Regions from separate parts of the Homo sapiens genome. Here region 1 is linked to region 2. A link means that fine-mapping ties the variant in region 2 to the expression of a gene that starts in the linked region. Tissue or cell type: whole blood. Region 2 holds a variant in brackets; the other region holds the start of a gene. All regions are shown on one strand. Distances are from middle to middle.

Region 1 (8,099 bases), 67 kb before region 2:
CCATTTCTTCCTCTCCTTCATTCTCCCTCCACCCCCATTTAATCAATCACCAATTCTACCACCAAAGGTACACCACCTCTCTCTCTCTGATGCTGTTTCCTAGCCCAAGCCACTATTGCTACTCACCTAAATTACTCCTTCCTATTTGTCCATCTGAAGTAGCTCCTCCTTGATGCAGTTGGCAGGTTTCTTCCCTTAATAGCCCTTACCACAAACTGTGAGTTCCTATGTGTGTACTGAATTTGTTATTGTCTGGTTCTCCAAACAGAATGTAAAATCTGTGAGGGCAGGGCCCTATCTCATTCATTCCGCAAATATTCATCATAGGTCTACTAAGCACTGTTACTGTTGTAGGTGTTGGGGGTGGGTGGAGAGAGGTGTGGTATGGTGAGAAAGTGTATAGCAGTTATGTGGCAAGAACCACTCTTCAAATTTGAGGGACACAGAAATGGGGCAAACCTTCCCTATGAGACTGGACTATGGAAAGTAGGAGAAATTGTGGCTGCTGACTTGCTGGCAGTGATTAAGGCAAAGAGGAAAATGTCATGAGACTAAGGACATCAGCCAGAATGACAGCCCCCAAATCTCCTGTCAACCTATAAGGAAGAAGCTGAGGCAAAATGAATACAAGTAGAGAGTTTATTATAAGCTTGAGGATTGCAACGAAAGAGCATAGATTCAAGTTGCCCTAAATAGACACTCTGATTAGCAGCAGTTACAAGTGGATTTTTATAGGGAAAGAAGAGGCAGTTCCTGAGTTATTTACCAACAGTTTACATTAAAATAACATAAGCTATTGATTGGCTATACATTGTTAAACTATAGGGTGTGTGTTAGAATGTCCAGTACAACATTATTAGGTTAATTTATAGCTACTTGTGGCAAGAGCAAGCAGTGTCAAGAGATGAATACATAGCTCAAAGGAGGGAGGCATAGGATGTGATTCTGTCATTTTCTTTTCTTTTTTTTTTTTTTTGAGACTGAGTCTCACTCTGTTGCCCTGGCTGGAGGGCAGTGGCACGATCTTGGCTCACTGCAACCTCTGCCTCCCAGGTTCAAGTGATTCTCCTGCCTCAGCCTCCCAAATAGCTGGGATTACAGGCGCGCACCACCATGCCCAGCTATTGTTTGTAGTTTTAGTAGAGACGGAGTTTCAACATGATGGCCAGGCTATTCTTGAACTCCTGACTTTCTGCCCGCCTTGGCCTCTCAAAGTGCTGGGATTACAGGCGTGAGCCACTGAGCCCGGCTGATTCTGTCATTTTAATGCCTCGCTGGGCCTATTTATTTATTTTTAATTTTTAAAGATTTATTTATTTTTTAATTTTTTTTTTTTTAGAGGCAGGGTCTTGTTCTGTGGCTCAGGCTGGAGTGCAGTGGTGAGATCCTAGCACTACAGGTGCACACCACTACGCCTGGCTTTTTTTTTTTTTTTTTTTTTTTGTTTTTTTTTTGAGATGGAGTTTAGCTTTTGTTGCCCAGGTTGGAGTGCAATGGCACGATCTCGGCTCACGCAACCCGGGTTCAAGTGATTCTCCTGCCTCAGCCTCCCGAGTAGCTGGGATTACAGGCATCTGCCACCATGCCCAGCTAATTTTGTATTTTTAGTAGAAACGGGGTTTCTCCATGTTGGTCAGGCTGGTCTCGAACTCCCGACCTCAGGTGATCCATCTGCCTCGGCCTCCCAAAGTGCTGGGATTACAGGTGTGAGCCACCACGCCCGGCCTATTTTTATTTTTTTATAAAGACTGGGTCTGGCAATATTGCCCAGGCTGGTTGCAAACACCAACACTGCGCCCAGCCATCTGGGCCTGATAATTTAAAAGGACTCTCATTCCTCAGATAAAAGTTCTTTTCGGCCAGGTGAGGTGGCACGTGTCTGTAATCCCAGCACTTTGGGAGGCTGAGACTGGAGGATCACCTGAGCCCAAGAGTTTGAGACCAGCTTGGGCAAGATGTTGAGACCCCCGTCTCTACCAAAAATGAACAAATTAAAAGAGTGTGGTGGCGGGCACTCGCCTATAGTCCCAGCTACTCGGGATGGCTAAGGCGGGAAGATCCCTTGAGAGCCCAGGAATTCGATACTTAAGCTATGATTGCACTAGCCTGCGTGGCAAAATGAGACCTCTTCTCTTACAAAAAAAAAAAAAAAAAAAAAATTGTGTTCTCAACCCCAACGGACCACAATATCCAGTAAAGCTGCTATGGCCCCTAACTCTCAGCACAGGAGGTCCCTTAAGAAAATGCTTGTCCGGCCGGGCGCGGTGGCTCACACCTGTAATCCCAGCACTTTGGGAGGCCGAGGCAGGTGGATCACCTGAGGTCAGGAGTTCAAGACTAGCCTAGTCAACGTGGCGAAACCCCGTCTCTATTAAAAACACAAAATTAGCCGGGTGTGGTGGCGGGTGCCTGTAGTCTCAGCTACTCGAGAGGTTGAGGCAGGAGAATAGCCTGAGCCCAGGAGGTGAAGGCTGCAGTGAGCCGAGATTGCGCCACTGCGCTCCTGCGCTCCAGCCTGGGCGACAGAGTGAAACTCTGTCTCAAAAAAAAAAAAAAAGTTTGCTCCTAACCCCCATCTCAACAATCCAGGACTGAAAAGAAGAGGGACCATGAAAGTCCCTGAAACTACAAGTTGGGCTACGGCTAAAGAAGGTAAATATCAGACTGAAGTGTAAGATGGACATTACTAAGTCTTAATCATCATTTCATGTTTATACCTCACAGGTTGAGATAGATTTCTCAAGCATCATAAATGTAAAGTGCATTAGGGTAGGTCTACAAGAGAGCTCTGAGAACATACAGCAAGGAGACCCAAACCCATCTAGGGCTCAGGGAAGGCTTCCCAAGGAAGCGATGCCCATGCCGAGGCCGAAGGGATCTCATGCCCCACTGCACACACCGCGCGCTCCCCATTCCCAAACAAGGCAGGCTTTTCATGCCTCCCTACCTTTGGACTCTGTTGTTCGTTCCACTTTCCTGGAGTGCTGTCTTCCCTCCCCTTCTGCTCAGTCAGGCTAACTTCACATCCTTTATAATCCAGCTGAAAAGTGAAGCCATGCCCACGGCCTCTCCCCAAAGGAGGAGTGAGTATCACCTGTTCTGAGCTCCGAAGTTCTTGGGGACACCTTGTGGGAACTGCGTGTGTGGTGGCTTGTCTCCACCACCGTACTGTGAGCTCATAGTGTTCTAGAGCCCAGCACGAGGCAAGCTCTATAGATGTCTACTGAATGAAGGAATGAACGAATGATTACATTTTAAATGGGATTAGGGGAAAATGATTCAAGGCAGAGGGGTGAGCTGAGCTCCTTGGAATGGTGTCTTTACCGAACCAAGCCTGGGTTAGGCAGATGTAATGAGCCCACCTATTACAAGAATCTCCATAGAAAGTAGGTCAGTTCTTTCCTATCTCTTTAAGAACGAGAGGCCGCGGCTCCGCGCCTGCGCACTGAGAGAATAAACACCTCTCCTTTTCACCTTCCCCCCTTCTCCCTATTGCCCCAACCGGCGGCAGCCTCCTCCCATACTCCCCTCCTTCGGGGCGGGTAATGGTCCGTCCGTCCCAGGGTGCCAGGCTTGTTTCGGAGGGTGGCAAGCAGAAATGGTACATTCCACTGCCTTCATTACCTTCTGCTTTTCGCGTCTCCTGTTCTATTTCCCCCTACCTAAAGAAGCTTAATAGGCTAGCCCCAAAGAAGGCGGGGGAGCCGGGCGGAGGGGACCGGTCTGAGCCGGTCTGCAGCGCAAGCGCAGTGCGGATAAACAGGAAGCGGGCGGTGGAGGCAGCAGCAGAGGGAGAGCTCGGGGCTTGGAGGGGAAACAGCGGAAGACCTAAGATTATCGGGAGGGCAGCAGAGGCAGAGAACGAGGACAGGACCCTTGGCCGTCTTCTTCCAGGGAACGAGAGGTCACAGCCTCGCTCTCCGCTTAGGCTTCTGGCGCCCCAGCTTAAAGCCGAGGCTGCGGCTGACAAAGGGCTCGCGCCGGTGCCGCCGCCCTTCTCATCCGGGCATTCGGGTCCCTGCGGAGAGGGAGGGGGAAGGGCAGAGGGGGAGGGGAAGGAGCCGGAGGGGCGCACACTTGGAGCTGAAGCCCTCTCCAGGGCTCCGGGCCGGTGCCCCAACGGACAGAGGTCGAGGAGGACCCGCAGAGGTGGCAGCGGCCGGGGGCAGGAGGATGGTGCAGAAGGAGAGTCAAGCGACGTTGGAGGAGCGGGAGAGCGAGCTCAGCTCCAACCCTGCCGCCTCTGCGGGGGCATCGCTGGAGCCGCCGGCAGCTCCGGCACCCGGAGAAGACAACCCCGCCGGGGCTGGGGGAGCGGCGGTGGCCGGGGCTGCAGGAGGGGCTCGGCGGTTCCTCTGCGGTGTGGTGGAAGGTGAGCGCCCTCCTTCCCTCCCCGTTTTGGCACTAACACGTTCTGTCCTCGGGAGGAGGGTGGTGGCGGGGATTTTGGAGACTCTAAAAGGCCGGAAAGCCTCTGGGTCTGAAATGTGGCCCTCCTAAAGCGAGGGGAGAGACGAGATGTTGGGCGAATCTCCTTGCACGTCTTAAGACGGCGTCGAATTCCCCCCTGGCCACTCACAAGTCTGACCCCACCCGTCTTGGGCTTGGAGCCAGGCCACCTCCTAAGGAGGCGGTGGTTAAGAGCCTGGTGTTCTGTTAGCCTCTGAGTTCTACTTCTTTGTACCTTGGGATCTTATTCCCTAGGGTTGTCTGGTTCCAGTGAAAAAATATGTGTAGTGCTTCTGTCACCACCCTTTGTGGAAAATCGGCCCACACTGACGTGCTTGTACTTCTGGAGTGAAGAGAAGCACGTTTGGCCTATAGTATTTCAAGTTCCACTTGGCTTAGAATATTTTTGTTGCTTCCCCCCACCCCCGCAAAGATTCATTTGCAACTTAGAAAATTGCCCTCTTTCCCAGCTACTGTACTTTGCTCTCGAGGGATGAAACTTTGGCTTTAATCACAGATTCTCGAAGTATCTGAGATGCGTAATTGGAATTTAGTGACCGCAGAAGCGGCTTTAAAAATGCCCTTCTCGCCTTTTTTCCCATTTACAGTCGAAAAGAACGATGGACTTTTTGGTAGTGAGGGAAAATTACCAGATGCTTGTTTCAGTTTCTGGATGAGAATGGACAGATAGTCCACCTTGCAGCTCTGTAGAGGCACGAATCGGTTACATTATTAGTCTTTCCGCAGTTACAGCATGTATTTGAATTTTCTGAAGTATTTTGGCCGATTCAGAGTTTCCTAGATGTCTGTTTTATATCTCTCTCGTATGTAATGGCGTGGATAAGGGTAAAAAATATATATATTTAAAAAACCAAAAAGGTATGGAAAAAGGATTGCTCTCGACGTTGAGAACATCAGCTTTTCTGTTTTTTTTCACCATATAAATTAGAGTATTCTTTCGAAAAATGGGTGGTGGTTATGGTACAGACCATAACAGGCTACTTTGCTGCTACAGTAAGGCATGAAAGAGTTCAGCGAAGTTAACTGTCTTGCAGAATTTGGGGGATTACAGAATGGAAAACTGCTATATAGTATTCATCAAAAATGATTGCATTGTGTGACTTATATCGTTGTATTTATTGGCTTGAGTGCAGGGAGATTTTAGAAAAAGAATCTGGTTTTTGTTATCAAAGATCTTGGAGTGGGGATGAGAGAGTGCTGGGAAATTTCGGAGCTAGACTGGAATGAGTCTAAGGAAACTTGCCAGTCCATTATACCTTCAGTTATAAAAGGAGAAAACTCATTTGGTTTAAATTCGTTTGTTTAGAATAGCATTAAAAGGCGATTCTTCCTATTTAAAGAACAGAGTTGTCTGCCATTCTCTCGTTTATTCCTCCTCCCTCCCGTGCCCTTGTATATTTTCTTAGTGACTGAGCACCTGAGCCAGCACTGATTTTTTGTGTGTTTTGTTGTTTTTGTTTTGGGAGACGGAGTCTCGCTCTGTCGCCCAGGCTGGAGTGCAGTGGCGTGATCGCGGCTCACTGCAACCTCCGCCTCCCGGGTTCGAGCAATTCTCCTCCCTCACCCTCCCAAGTAGCTGGGACTGCAGACACGGGCCCGGCTAATTTTTTGTATTTTAGTAGAAACGGGTTTCACCGTGTTGCCCAGGCAGGTTTCCACCTACGGAGCTCAGGCAGTCCGCCCGCCTCGGTCTTCCAAAGTGCTAAGATTACAGGCGTGAACTACCGCGCCTGGCTTTTTTTTTTTTTTTTTTTTTTTTTTTCTCTCTTTTTGATACCTCTTGGTTGGCACCAGCCGTAAAATGAATGAGCATAGAAATACTATAGTTACTGCTAGGATTTCTTTTTTGTTTTCTTTCCATCACAAAACTCTCTTGGTTTTTAACTTACATTAACAGCATTGCTTCCTCTTTGTGGTGCCAGTCAACCGAAACCATGAACCTGACTCTCAAAAGAGCCAAGGTAGGGTTTCTAAAGATTAAAATGTTTAATTAAGCTAGACATTTGAAAAGTCTTTTTTTATATTGGAGCAACTCTGAAAGGATGTTTAATGCCTACTCCTTAAAAAAAAAATGATAATGCTAAGTGCCGTAGGGATGCTAAAGACTTGTATAGGTCTGCCTGATCAAGAATATTTTATATTGGCCGGGCGCGGTGGCTCACGCCTGTAATCCCAGCACTTTGGGAGGCCGAGGCGGGCGGATCACGAGGTCAGGAGATCGATACTAGCCTGGCCAACATGGCGAAACCCTGTCTCTACTAAAAATAGAAAAAATTAGCCGGGCGTGGTGGCGGGCTCCTGTAATCCCAACTACTCGGGAGGCTGAGACAGGAGAATCGCTTGAACCCGGGAGTTGGAGGCGTAGATTGCATTGAGCCGAGATAGTGCCACTGCACTCCAGCCTGGGCGACAGAGTGAGATTCCGCCTGAGAAAAAAAAAAAAGAATATTTTGTATCACTTGTGAGAGGCTAACATTAGATTGTCCAGATGAAAGTGCTACAGTTATACATTGGTATGTAATGAATTTTAATTTGGTCTGTCATTGTCCTTTTTGTGGTGCAGAGGAGTCATTCTGCCTAGAGATTGGAGCTAAAATACATTGCAGAAATTTGTTTTAGACTAGTCTCTTATGTAGATTGTGTGGGTTTATGTAGAACATTTTGTGTTCAGAATGCTTTTATTAACCTTCTTCATGGTACTCTTGAGAGGCTGTCCTTATCTCTTACTGATGATTAGACTGAGACAAGTGGAAAGTAAAGGTTAGACAAGATGTAAAGTGTGTGGTTTGAGCTGTGATGAGCACACTAGGGAGTTCCAGATACCAGTTTGATGCTTATTCAACCATTTAGGTTATCGGTCTGCGAGTTTGTTTTCTGCAGTGTGTGCATAACTAGTGTTTTGTCCTCTTAGAGGATACTCTGGGGACATTCTTGAGTTTTCTTTGTTTATTCCTTTCCGTTTAAGGACCAGAAGTAATATTCTTGAATTTTCATTTGTTCAGATCTTTGCTCTGTAATTAAGATTGCGTGAGAGTTTGTTGTTTGGGCCAGTTAGGCTGTTGAATTTCTTGGGAATGTGGTTTCAGGCATTTTTTGGTCCCTTTGATTATATCATTGTATGTGGAACTTTTTTTGAGAGAGAGAGTTTTGCTCTGTCACCTAGGCTGGAATGCAATGGCGCGGATCTTGGCTCACCGCAGCCTCCGCCTCCTGGATTCAAGCAGTTCTCCTGCCCTAGCCTCCCAAGTAACTGGAATTCCAGTCCTGGCCAGGAACTTTTTTTAAAAAAGAGGAGCACGATCATAAAATTAAGTCAGATTCTTTCCTAATCCTATCTCTGATTTGTTTTTAATTGCTTTACCTGTTTATCTCCCCTCACCCTTTTGTTGTTGTTGTTTGAGATGGAGTCTTGCTCTGTAGCCCAGGCTGTAGTGCAGTGACGCAGTCTCGGCTCACTGCAAGTCCGTCTCCCAGGTTCAAGTGATTGTTGTTTCTCAGCCTCCCAAATAGCTGGGATTACAGGCATTTGCCACCATACCTGGCTAATTTTTGTATTTTTAGTAGAGACATGGTTTCACCATGTTGGCCAGGCTGGGTCTGGAACTCCTGACCTCAAGTGATCTACCTGC
Region 2 (8,105 bases):
CACCATGCCCGACACCACTTTTTTTTTTTTTTTTTTTTTTTCTGAGACAGAGGCAGCTATATTGCAGGAGCCCAGAACTCCTGGACTCCAGTGATGCTCCCGTCTGATCTCTCAACTAGCTGGAATTACAGGTGTGAGCCACAGTGCTTGGCTTCCTTCCTCTTTTGTGGAAGGTTCTAGTGATGCAGAACTTTTTAACATTTCCCAAATGCTACATGCTTTTCCATGCATTTGTTTTTTCATGTGCTGCTCCCTCTGCCTAGTGAACTCCTACATACCCTTCGAGACCTAAACTTTTCTACCCTCTATTATGTCTCCCAGGCAATCCTCTGGGCTTATACATTATTCTATTTACAACAGTGAGTTGTAACTTCTTATTTGTAACTATAATGTTTCAAGTAGCCTTGGAATATAGTAGGTGCTTTATAAATTTTGGTAAATTAATGAATGAAGTTGCCATTATGGGGCAAATAAGAGGGCTGCAAACATTATCTGGGGAAACTTGGCCAACCAGTCCCCAGAGTTCTGGACCCTTCTAAGATTAGAGATAGTTTGAGAAAAGATAACAACAACAAAAGCTACATACCATTTATTAAGTGCTTACTGTCTACTAGAGTTGTTCTAAGCCTTGGTACACTTCATCTCATCTCATCCTCATAATAGTACTATGAGGTAGTTATTACCTTCATGAGGGTTTTTTCCCCTGAATACATTATCTTCATTTTACATTGGGGAGACTGAGGTTCAGAAAAGCAAAGGAATTTCTTCCTTCCAAAGTTTTACAGCTAGGATTTAAATCCAGATCTGGGCCAGGCACAGTGGCTCACACTTGCAGTCCCAGCATTTTGGGAGGCCAAGGTGGGAGAATCACTTGAGGCCAGGAGTTCAAGACCACTCTGGGCAACAAAGTGAGACCCCGTCTCTACAAAAAATAAAAAATTACCTGGGAGAGGTGGTGTGCACCTGTAGTCCCAGCTACTTGGGAGACTCAGGTGAGAGGATCACTTGAGTCCACTGGATGACAGAGCGAGACCTTGTCTCTAAATAAATAAATCCAGATCTGTTGGCCTTTCAAATCCAGGTTTTTAACCCCTAAGCTTTTCTGACTCTGAATTATCGAAGTGTGAACTTTTTCTTCTATATCATGGGAGAACCAAATCCCATTGCTCCTTCTGCCCAGTCTTGGAAACTCCATTGTCAGATGGGTCCCAAACTGTATGGCAGGGGGACTGGGATTACCCAGACAGGCTGGGAGAGATCAGAAGTTCCAACCTGATCTTTGTGCTGAGATCTTGACCTGCACCCTTGGTGGGGTGGGGGGGTTACTAATCATTTACTTACTGCTTATGAACTCTGCCACCCCTGGAATGGCCAAGGTGCAGCTAAATTAGCAAAAAAAAAAAAAAAAAGTGGGTCTGAGATTGGCTGGGGTTCACCTCTTCAGGTTACAAGGCAGTTTGTTAGGAAAATAAAACCCTTCATTGGAAGCTCAGAAGGACTTCACTTTGAGGGTTGAACCCAGGTTCTAGCCTGGCTTTTGTTACTAACCAGCTGTGACCTTGGGCAAAGGGCTTAACCGTATAAGCCTTTGTAAGTGGGCAGGAAAATGGGCAAGAACACAATGCACTTAGGAAGAAAAGGGCCAGACAACACCCAGAGGATGGGAATCTGAGCCTCCAGGAAAGAGGCTCCAGAGATGCCAGTCAGTGGCAGCGTCCCAGTGTGCTGGGGGGAGTGAGAGGCCACTTAAGAGCAGCCACCAAATGGGAGAGGAGCATGGGAATGGGAGAGGCAACCAAAGACAGAGAAAGCATTCTCCTCTCCTCTTGTGGGATGCCAAATTAGGTCCTATCAATCTCTCTGGAATGTCCAGAGGTGGGCATGGGGAAAGTCCCACCTTCAGGAAAAGCCGACCTCCCCCTTTTTTGGGCCTTCTTGTACCCAATACATACTTCTAGCTCGGAAGTGTCTTCACTGCCTTCTATTTAAAATGTCGATCTTCTTAATAGAAAGTGAATTTCTTGAGGGAAGAAAACGTAACTTATCCATCTGTATTCCTCAGCTGCTACACTGCCCGACTGCCTGGTACCAGTAGAGACTACATAATTGACTGATGGAAGAATGAAAGAATGAAGGAAGGAAGGAAGGAAGGAAGGAATGGAAATCCGATGATTAGGCAGAGGTCCAATGTATGTCAGAGTAGAGTAAATCTTTAAAGCTCATTACAAAAAAGGAGGTCCTATTTGGGAAGTAGAATCCCAAATGACATAGGGAATTTGGGAGCAGAAGAGCCAAGGAGAGCTGAGAGTACCAATACACGTGGTCCCTAGGGCCACCAGTGGCCACAGAATTCTTGGCTGGGTAGGCTATTGCTTAAGCTCCTTAGAGAAGATGTAAAGACAGGTGGCACACAGAGATTGCACACAGAGCTCTCATTCATTGTCCTTAGCTAGAGTCACCATATGGTTTATACATATTTTCCCAGGGTGATTATTAATACTTCAAAAGTGTCAAAGTGGGAGGACTGCCTGAGTCTCAGAGGTCGAGGCTGCAGTGCGCCATGTTTGGGTCACTGTACTCCAGCCTAGGGAGCAGAGTGAGACCCTGTCTCAAAAAAAAACAGTGCCTCAGTCCTGGTTTGGATGACAAACTTTTTTTTAGGTGGTATTTTTTTCCTCCATCTTTTCCATTTTTGTTGTTGAGATATAATTCACATACCACAAAATTTACCCCTTTAAAGTACATAATTCATACTTTTAGTATACTGAGAAACTTTTACAATCAACAGTATTATTTAATTCCAGAACATTTTCATTTATTTATTTATTTATTTATTTATTTATTTATTTATTTTTGAGACGGGGTTACTCTGTTGCCCAGGTGAGAGTACAGTGGCGTGATCATGGCTCACTGCAGTCTCTACCTCCCAGGCTCAAATGATCCTCCCGCCTTGGCCTCCTGAGTAGCTGGGACTACAGGCGCAAGCCACCATGCCCAGCTAATTTTTTTTTTTTTTTAAATTTTTAGGAGAGTCGAGGTCTCACTATGTTGTCCAGGTTGATCTTGAACTCCTGAGCTCAAGCGATCCTCTCATCTCAGCCTCCCAAGGTGCTAGGATGACAGGCGTGAGCCGCCACGCCGGGCCAGAACATTTTCTTTACCCTACAAGAAACCCTGTATCCATTAGTAGTCACTCCCTATTCCCTGGCTCCCCAGCCCCTGGCAACTGCTATTTTCTGTCTTTATGGATTTACTTATTCTAGACATACAAATAAAATTATACAACATGCAGCCTTTTGAGTCAGGCTTCTTTCACTCAGCATAATGTTTTCAAGGTTCATCCATGTTGTAGCATGAATCAGTACACAGGACAATAAATTTTTCAGCCACTCTGTGTATAGACCTTAATATTTTATCTGTTATATTGTGGGTGTTTCCCTGGAGCCAAGGAGGAATTGAGATAGGGAAGCCAGGCTGAGATTCTCTTACTGGAGAGGCCATTCTGTTGACTCAAGGCACAGAAACACTGGTGTGGGGATGAGGCCAAGGAGCCTGATTTAGGATTCTAGACTCTTGTGTTGGAATTTTGTATTAGCTTTGAGGTCTTGTCTTCCTGATAGTAGTTACAGACAAATGACAACAGTCTAATCTACTGCCAGCTTCTTGGAGCAAAGGAGCAGTCAATGAATTAATAGAATGAACCAGGAGAAAAATGAATCAGAGACTCTACATTTGAGCCTTTGCTCAGCTACTGGCTTTGAGTGATTTAGGTCCCTTTACTTTTTCTAGTCTCTGTAAAATGAACACAGGAGGCTGGGTGTGGTGGCTCACGCTTGTAATCCTAGCACTTTGGGAGGCCAAGGTGGGTGGATCACCTGAAGTCGGGAGTTCGAGACCAGCCTGACCAACATGGAGAAACCCTGTCTCTACTAAAAATGCAAAAAAATTAGCTGGGCGTGGTGGTGCATGCCTGTAAGCCCAGCTACTCGGGAGGCTGAGGTAGGAGAATCGCTTGAACCCAGGAGGCGGAGGTTGCAGTGAGCCAAGATCGCGCCATTGCACTCTAGCCTGGGCAACAAGAGCGAAACTCCATCTCAAAAAAAAAAAAAAAAAAAAAAGAACACAGGGACAAAGAGAAAAATCCCAATGCCATCATTAGGTGTTAAGACACTTCAAAGAATCACTCAGTA[T/G]TAAAATGTTATGGATGTTTCTACAGATTCATGTCTACTTGTTTCATTTCTTTTTTTTGTTTGTTTTTGAGACGGAGTCTCGCTCTGTCGCCCAGGCTGGAGTGCAGTGGCGCGATCTCGGCTCACTGCAAGCTCCGCCTCCCGGGTTCAAGCCATTCTCCTGCCTCAGCCTCCCGAGTAGCTGCGACTACAGGCGCCCGCCACCACGCCCAGCTAATTTTTTGTATTTTTAGTAGAGGCGGGGTTTCACTGTGTTAGCCAGGGTGGTCTCGATCTCCTGACCTCATGATCCGCCCGCCTCTGCCTCCCAAAGTGCTGGGATTACAGGCGTGAGCCACCATGCCCGGCCTACTTGTTTCATTTCTTCTAATGGATGGAGTTCCTAGGGCCAAGGGCCAATTTTTATACAATTCTGTCTGTCCTACAATACCTGACACAAGGCCTTACACATATAGGGGCCCAGTGTGTATTGCAAAAAAGAAAGAAGCCTGACTAAGTAACATTCATTAGTGTGTGGAAGTATTTCCTCATTTCCAGAACGATCTGGCAAGGACTCTGAGGCTAGGGTGAGGGGCCTCACACTTCTACCTCAGGCAATCAGAAATGGTTTTGAGGTGCCACTAGATTCCATACCAGGAGGGAGGCCACCGAGCAGCAGGGCCTGGGAGTTGGCAGTGCTGGAAGGCTGTCCTCAGGGGAAAACCGAGGAGGACAGGCGTGCTAGCCAGGCCTGCTGCGCTGAAAGCAGCAGACGGGTAATTTCCAAATGACCATTTCAAAGGAAGGTTGAATTTCTCCAAGATAAGAGGGAGAGCAGAGAGCATGCCTGTATCTCTAACCCCCTGAGCTCATGGCCGTGATAACAGCTGTGGGGTTGGAAACTTAATGCTGATGAAAGAGTTAAAGGGTGGCTTCGGGCAGCTATCGGTGACACTGCTAGGAATTGAGCATGCTCCTGGAGCGCGGCTGGGGACTGGTGTTACTCCATGAATAGAGGCCACTCTCAGGGAGTTTTTCCAGGAACAGAATGGGGTCAGGGAGCCGCTTGGGGAACAATGGTTGCCACCGACTAGCTGAATTTCTTACAATCACACACCATACCCCCTGATCAAATAGCTCCTTTGTCCGGCTGATATAAAAACATGTCATACAATGATGATTTGGAAGAATGACACGGGTTTGCCTTTCACAGAGATCAGAAGGGCTTGTTGTGCAGCAGGGGGAAAAACATCAGAGTCAAGGAAAACCTGGAGAATAAAAGGAACAAATGGAAACAGACAGCAACAATAAGAAAAGGGCTGGGTTGCTGGAAAGACAGACAAGGGCTTGGTTACCAGCAGGGAAACCAAGCAGCCAGGCAGCTCCAAGGAAAGGCCTGCTGGCTGCCCAGTAACCAGTTTCACAGCGCCCCCTTGAAACTCCTGAGAAACTCAAGGAGGTAAAGAAATAACAAGAAGAATGGCCTCAATTGGCTAGTGAACGCAGGGCGGTATACACAGCCCATAGGAAACGTAAAGGGACCTGAGAGATCATCCTGTCCAAACCATTATTTTATAGATGGGGACACTGAGGCCTGGGGAAGGACGGTGGCTTTGTCATCTACCCAGATTGTCTAGGTTCAGGTCTTGTTTTACAACTGCTTCTTCTATTTCTTGACTTTGAAGATGGAAATGCTGGAACTTCTCAAGCACTCTCTGTTCAGAGAATAGAAGAGATGAACATTAGGGGTTGAAATGAGACTCCTGCCTGAACCAGGGATTCCAACAAGGAACTCAAGCAAAGTACTGCACTTCTGTGTGCCTCTGTTTCCCCATCTATAAAGCGGGGCCACTCCTGAAAGCAGGCAGGTAGCCAGCCACAGGCTCAGTCATCATTTATTAAATGCCTTCTGTGCATCCCACCCTGGAAGAGGGCACTGGAGAGAGGAAGCAGGGAGCCTCGCTGAAAGATAAGACACAGTCACTGGACCCAGCCAGCCAGGCAATCTAGAGAGACTGTGTGGACACCAAACCCTGATTCTCAGCTGAGGCCTGTAATTGAGGTGGGCAGCTTTCTTGTCTGTTTCAGGACGGTCAGACTGACACTTTGTTGTTCAAAGACAGAAGGCTCATATAGCAAGATTCCTGCAGCTTCCAGTCACCAAGTAGGTTTACAGAGAAAATGACGATTGTCAATGTCACTAATTAACATTCACCTCTAGTACAGCAACTGTAAGTGGATCCCAAGCCTTTATATTAGATTTCCTTAGAACTATGTGGGGTTAAAAAGCAAGAGTATTTTGTGTTAATATATTCCCTTTTATTCACAGATCCGGAAATCCTTTACCAGCAGATAGCCAGTTCTCAATGCTACCCCTGTGGGGAATGTGGCAAATGCCACTCTCCTCGTTTTCCAGCTGGGAGGCCTGGGTCACAGAAAGGTTCTAAGTCCTGCAGTGGGGGAGGGAATGCAAGTCTGTCACCCTTTCCTTCACCACTCTGGCTTTGGACCAAAGAACAAGGTGCTGGAAGGCAAAACTGAAGAGTAAACCAACAATGGATGTGGTAAACTTCTGTTACTGGAAAGCAAAAATGCTTTCATATATATATTATATACATATTGTATATATAATACATATACACATATTGTATATATAATACATATATACATATTGTATATTATATACATATCATATAATATATTATATACATATCACATAACGTATTATATACATATATAATATATACATATTACATATTGCATACATATTATATATAATGTATATTATGTGATATGTATATTGTATATCATGTATATGTATATGTATATGTATATATGTATATGTATATCATATATATCATACATGATATATAATATATATTTTATATATTATATACTATATTATTATATATAATATAGTATATATTTATATAATATATAATATATTACATATATTATATAATATATATTATATATTACATACATATATATTTTATATATATATTTTTTGAGATGGAGTTTCACTTTTATTGCCCAAGCCGGAGTGCAGTGGTGTGATCTCAGCCCATTGCAATCTCCACCTCCTGGGTTCAAGTGATTCTCCTGCCTCGGCCTCATGAGTAGCTGGGATTACAGGCATGCACCACCACGCCCAGTTAATTTTTGTATTTTTAGTAGAGATGAGGTTTCACTATGTTGGCCAGGCTGGTTTCGAACTTCTGACTTCAAGTGATCCACCCGCCTTGGCCTCCCAAAGTGCTGGGATTACAGGCATGAGCCACCGCGCCCAGCCATGCTTTCATATTTTAAAAATTTTGCTTAAATAGATCATATGTTTACATGGTACTTCAAAGGGTACAACAGAATATTGTACCCCTCGCAATCTCCCTGCAACCTCTGTCTCTACACACAGCATTTCCTACCCTGGAGAAGACCCAGTTATCAGGTTCTAAGAACAATTCCATGTAAAGTCATATGATGTTCAGTCAACGACAGCTGCATATCGGATGGTGGTCCCATAAGACTATAATACTGTATTTTTTACTGTATACCCTTTCTGTTTCCATATATTTAGATACACACATATTTGTCATTGTGTTACAGCTGCCTACAGTATCCAGTACAGTCACATGCTGTATAGGTTTGTAGCCTAGGAGCAATAGGCTCTACCATATAGGCTATGTATGTAGGAGGCTGTACCACCTACGTTTGTGGAAGCACACTCTGTGATGTTCACACAACAAGGAAATCACTAATGATGCATTTCTCAGAACATATCCCCCTTATTAAGTGACACATAATGATATTTATAAATACAAACATAAAATACTTTTTCTTGCTCACATATGATATATAAACTATTCTGCACATACAGAACATTTTAAGATGCATATGAAATGAACAGACACTCAGGGTTGAGAGGACTATGGGAGCCCA

Evidence for each region. PIP is the estimated chance that this variant, and not a neighbour inherited with it, causes the effect.
Region 1: KCNIP2-AS1 starts here. The variant in region 2 is fine-mapped to the expression of KCNIP2-AS1 in whole blood (INTERVAL, PIP 0.98).

What each region holds. Positions count from the first base shown.
Region 1 is chr10:101,814,097-101,822,195 of GRCh38, reverse strand. KCNIP2-AS1 (KCNIP2 antisense RNA 1) reads right to left here and starts at 3,128. Exons shown (of 3, transcript NR_045118.1): 1 at 2,948-3,128. It overlaps OGA (O-GlcNAcase), which reads left to right and starts at 3,752. Exons shown (of 16, transcript NM_012215.5): 1 at 3,752-4,372. The coding sequence starts at 4,174. RefSeq lists enhancers at 3,723-3,842, 3,644-4,219 and silencers at 3,993-4,052, 4,133-4,192.
Region 2 is chr10:101,746,722-101,754,826 of GRCh38, reverse strand. The region is part of intron 2 of LOC105378458 (a long non-coding RNA gene); the gene reads left to right. Among named protein-coding and RNA genes, the nearest start is that of LINC03046, 21 kb to the right of the region's middle. The variant T/G (reference allele first, on the strand shown) is at 4,191.